2 separate regions of the Homo sapiens genome follow, and region 2 is linked to region 1. The links come from fine-mapping of genetic effects on gene expression. Tissue or cell type: subcutaneous fat. Region 1 holds a variant in brackets; the other region holds the start of a gene. All regions are shown on one strand. Distances are from middle to middle.

The links. PIP is the estimated chance that this variant, and not a neighbour inherited with it, causes the effect.
Region 2: CDYL2 starts here. The variant in region 1 is fine-mapped to the expression of CDYL2 in subcutaneous fat (GTEx, PIP above 0.99). The same link has a PIP of 0.9 or more in left ventricle, tibial nerve and visceral fat.

The regions. Positions count from the first base shown.
Region 1 is chr16:80,899,384-80,902,066 of GRCh38, reverse strand. No RefSeq gene overlaps it. Among named protein-coding and RNA genes, the nearest start is that of ARLNC1, 8.1 kb to the right of the region's middle. The variant T/G (reference allele first, on the strand shown) is at 1,469.
Region 2 is chr16:80,803,207-80,805,889 of GRCh38, reverse strand. CDYL2 (chromodomain Y like 2) reads left to right here and starts at 1,292. Exons shown (of 7, transcript NM_152342.4): 1 at 1,292-1,740. The coding sequence starts at 1,717. RefSeq lists silencers at 1,012-1,071, 1,092-1,401, 2,012-2,081, 2,362-2,511.

The sequences.
Region 1 (2,683 bases):
GTCCTGCCTCAGCCTTCCGAGCAGCTGGGATTACAGGTGCCCACCACCACACATGGCTAATTTTTGTATTTTTAGTAGAGATGTGGTTTCACCATGTTGGCCAGACTGGTCTTGAACTCCCAACCTCAAATGATCCTCCCACCTGTGCCTCCCAAAGTGCTGGGATTACAGGCGTGAGCCACCATGCCCTGCCGAATTGTGCATTTCAAATGAGTGAATTGTATGGTATGTGGATTATATCTCAATAAAGCTGTTTTAAACAATCCTAGCTCTACCACTTATTAGTTGCCTGACCTTGGGCAAATAACTAATCACTTCAGTGCCTTAGTTTTCTCATCTTTAAAATGGGGACCATCACGGCATCCACTATATCAGTGTCCTGGGGCTGCCATAACAAATAACCCCAAACTGGGTGGCTTGAGATGGCAGGCATGTGTTCTTTCACAGTTCTGGTGGCCAGAAGTCGGAAATCAAGGTATCAGCAGGTCTGTGTTCTCTCCAAAGTCTCTGGGAAGGAACCTGTTCCATGCCTCTCCCAGTGTCTGGTGGTGGCTGGCAGTCCTTGTCACTCCTCGACTTGTAGAGGCGTCACTCCAATCCCTCCCTCTGCCATCACATGTCCTTCTTCCCTGTGTGTCTTTGTCCCAATACCCCTTTCCTTCCAAGGATACCAGTCATTGGATTAGGGCCCACCAGAATCCAGTATGACCTCATCTTAATGTAGTTACATTTGCAAAGATCTTATTTCCAAATAAGGTCACATTCACCAATTCCAGGCAGACAAGAATCTCACAGGGGATACTGTTCAACACAGTATACCCCCTAAAAGGTTGCTTTTTCTTATGTTCCGCCACCATGAGACAGTAAAGTCCTCTTACCCCCCCTAGGTGGTTCACATTAGGGTTTTTTTTTTTTTTTTTTCACTTGTAGGTAAGAAACTTGACTAAAACAGGGGCAAAGGCACTCTTTCCTCAGAGGAGCAAGATGGGAGAAATGTGACCAGGTCCAGTCCGAGACATCCCTGCAGACCTTTGCAACTAGGTCTGGGGTGCAGATGTGGGTCAGGGCGGTTCCATTTGTGAGTCTTTTCAAGGTAGACAACACTGGGCTTGTAGAGGGGAGAGGAAATGAGTCCCTAATCTGAGGAGGAACCTGGACTCTGTTATGAAGCCTCTTTCTAGACAGTTGCCTACATGGCAACGAGGCTCTCAGCAAGCAGTTGTTGATTGACACATTGTCCCAAACAGGCTGTCCTGTCAGAAGTCCCGGAATGACACTCCTTCCAGTTCCGTCCAGTGGCCGGCCTCGACAATGTTGCTCCGAAGACAGCACAGAAATTGCCCGTGGCCACTCGGAGACTACAGGAAGGCAATGGCTGCACTCAAAGATAAAAGGTCCACTCAGCAGCTTCAAAAACATTTTGTTCTCTCCCAGCCAAGTTTCTGTTCTGCTAGGAGTTTTTACTTGT[T/G]ACCTAGAAGCGGCCAGTGCCCAAGGGAATGATGCTGTCTAAACTTCCTCCTATTTACTGGCCTCTCCAACCCCTCCCACTGCCGCTGGGAGACTAGTGCTTCCCAGGAGCCTTTGAGGCAGCCGTGCCTGCAGCCAGCCTCCAGCCACATCACCGCTGAGAACTCCATCCTATCAGATGGAGGCCCAGAGCTGGACGGCAGCCAGTCATAGCCACGAATGTTGGCACCGGGCTTAAATCCACATGGGCCTCCCGCCCGCCTGCAGTGGGTCCAGTCTGGTCTCCCTGCTCTGCTTCTCTCCCTGCTCTGGCCAAGTTGTGTGTGCAGAGTTTCTTGGTCCAAACCATACACTAACAGCTGGGATTTGTATTACTACATTGCATCCTTAGCTTTGTAGATACAGACTCTGGAAATGTCTGTAAGTTCATTTTTCTTTTGCACATTGATTAGTTTGATCCATTAACATGGGCACCCCATTTCAGAAATTCCAGAGCCCACTTTTGCTTGTCTGTGAGTGGAAGTGACCACTTGTCTTGTTGCCCAGAACTGGCTGGGAGCAGGGCCAAGATTCCCCCCTTAGACACACCACTCAGTGCGTGCAGCCATCTAAAATTCTCCAAAACCTCTGACTCATCCTCTTTCTCACTGTCATTCATTCATTCTAAGAATATTGAAATCTACTGTGTGCTAAGGGCACAGTGCTGAAAAAGAGACAACGGCCCTGCCAGCCTGGAGTATCCTTGGAGTCTAGTGCAGGGTAGGAATAAGTAAACAGTGTAACCCACTGAGGTAGGAGGAAAAGATAGGAGCACAGAAGAGGAACACCCGGCCCAGCCTTGGAAATTCAGGAAAGTTTCAGGAAGAAAGGCCATACACATCAGGCATACAAAATGTCAACATCAGGCAGCGGGGAATTGGTTGATGTTGGCATTAAACATGGCCTTAAGGTGCACCAAGTGCCTGTCATATGGGCAAATGCCGCAATTGCACCAGACATGAGGAAAATGGGGAAGGCATTGACTTGCTGGTTTTTCCATTTCTTGGTACAAAATCTCTTCATTGGCAGCCTTTAAAAATGAGGTGGCAGTGTCATGGACACAGGCAGGGGAACATCACACACAGGGGCCTGTTGGAGGGTGGGGGCAAAGGGGAGGGAGAGCATTAGGACAAATACTTAATGCGCGTGGGGCTTAAAACCTAGATGACAGGTTGAT
Region 2 (2,683 bases), 96 kb after region 1:
GAACAGCAAATGCAAATCCATGTGTCCTGGAATGAGCCAGACATGCTTCAGGTTCCATGGAGTTTTTTTTTTTTTTTTTTTTTTTTGGATTAAAAAATTTGGTGACTTTTCAAAGTTTGACAACCTCAGGATTAAACAATTTATCGAGCCCCTCTGCCATCTCACTCTCCATGAGGGCAGTCCAGGTTGAGACTCAGATACAAATCACCTTTATTGAGTTCTGCTGGGATGGACAGGTCACTTCATGTATACGTAGATCCTCTCCTTAATTCTATTTAAATCACTTAGGTGACTATCACCATCTCCCATCAGGGTTCGGTGACCTGCCCACAGCCTCCCAAGTAGAAAATGATCCAGGGAGCATGTGAGTTAATGATACATCACATCTGGAGCCAGGCAGGCATTTCATGGGTGGGGATGAAGATCTTCCCTCCAATTTCAGAAGTCTGACCTTGCAGGTTCTGAAGTAACTATATACATAAATATTTATAAGGAGAACCCTTTAAGCAGAGGGGTGACCATTTATCCATGAGAGATGGCTTAGGAACGGATTTGGGTTTTGGAGAGCTTCTCTAGCTCCTCCAGCTCCGCAGCCTGTCACACGCAGGATGACCTTTTAGAACAACTGAGTGCTCCATTACACTCCTCACTTGCGGATTCAAACTGTCTCTGGGCAGGGTCCCAGTTTTGCCTGTCCAGGGACACTGTGCACTTGGGTTGACTTTGGTAAATGTTTGAGTAAGGGATGAGTGAATAAATTCGGGGAGAGGGGTTGTTGAGGGAAGGCCACCCCTGGCTCTAAAGACTTTCCAGGGTTTATGGGGTGGCCACGCCTGTCCTGGATCCCCATGGTGCCTCTGGATGGGCCATTTCATCCTTCCTCCCTGTGGCCTCCACATCTTACAACCCAGCCTGGAGGGAGGGGCCGCGCAGCCCCGAGGGGCCAGGTCTCCCAGGCGGCGTCCACTCCCCTCGAGGGTGGAGGAGGTAGGTGGGGACCCCGGGCCGGCGGGGCTCGGCTGGGGCCCCTTCCCTGAGGTCTGCAGCCGCAGCCCTCTACCTGGCTCCCCGGCCGCCCCTTCGCGGCCCCAGATCGGGCGCACCCGGCGGGCACCTGGCCCGCCGCCCCCCGGGGGCCCCGCCAGCTGCTCCCGAAGCCGGCCCGGGGTGGCGGGGCGGGCCCGAGCGCTAGTCGACTCTGGGACCGGTCCCCCGGGGCGCGGCCGGGCAGCAGCCCCCGCCTCCCCGCCCCGGGGGCCGGGCCGGGCTCCCGGGGGGCGGGGACTCGCCCAGTGGCAGCAGCGTCCGGGCCGGCGGCGGGCGCCGGGCGGCTTCCTGCAGGCGGCGCCGGGGCGAGCCGTTGCCGGCTGCAGCCACCGCCGCCGGGTCGCCGGGTCGCGGGGGCCGCGGCGCTCGGGCCGCGTCCGTGCCTCCCGGGCGCGCTGCGCGGCCGTCGCTGCTGCCCGCGCTCGTGCCGCCGCCGCCGCCGCCGCCGCTGCTGCCGGTTACGCCAGCCCCGCCGCCGCCCGCTCTGATTCTGCGCATAGGCAGCCCCCAAGCCTGTCATTCTGCAAAAACACAGTTTACTCAACACACCACACACACTCGCACACACACGCGCGCACACACACGCGCACACCGGACCCCGCGCGCACACGCACGGAGGGCGCGAGCGAGCAGACGCGCACACCGGCGAGCCAAGTTCCGCAGCCTGGCATGGCTTCTGGGGACCTTTACGAGGTACGGGGACGCGGGGGCGCGGGCCGGCCCCAGTCAGCGGGCGGCGGCGGGCGGCGGCGGCGGGCGGCGGGGACCGGGCCGGGGCCGGGGCCGGGCGCAATCCGGAGTTGCCGAGCCCGCGGCGGCGGCGGCGGCGGCCGGAGGGTGGCGGGGGCCGGGCGCGCCTCCCGCCCGCCGCCCGCCGCCCGCCGCCTCCCGCGGCGCCCGCGCCCGCTCCCTCTTTCTCTTTCTCTCGCACACACACTCTCTTACTCCATCTACTTTGCGGCCTTGGAGGGGAAGGAGGAAGCCGGGCGGAGCCGGGGCGGGGGAGGTAGCGGTCCCGGGGAGGTGTTTCTCGCCCGACGAGCCGCCTCGAGTACAGAAAGTACAGGTAAAAGTCGGCGCCGGACGTGCTGGGAATGCGGGGGGGCGCGCCGCGGCCGGCGGGGGTGTGGGGCGGGGGTTGCGCGGCCCGGCTGGGCCGGGGGCGCGGGGGAGGAGGGGGGCGGGCGATCGGAGCGGAGCCTGGCCGGGGCGAGGCGGGGTCCCGGGGGGCTGCGAAGGGGGAGGCTGGGTGGGGGTTCGGGGGGACAACCGCCAAACCGCTCCCCGGGGTCCCCGGGCCACCTCCCTCACCCCCCACCTGCTGCCCCCGCACCAGCTCGGACGCCCTCCGGGCTCGGGCGTGGGGGTGGCCCTTGCGGGTGTCGTGCTCCCTGGGGGCGAAAGGGGGCGCTGCGGAGGGCCCTGGGTGGGAGGAGAACGTGGAAGTCTGAGGTGTTGGGGACATAGGACACAGATGCCAGCCCAGCGCCCAGTACTCTCGTCACCCTCAGTGGATACCTGGCTCCAGGTCCTAATGAGTAGTGGCCAGCGTTGGATACTCTCATGTCTTCCCAAAAGTGGCGAAGGAAGACATTAGTCTGGCATCTTTCAAACAATGGAGGAACACCCATGGTCT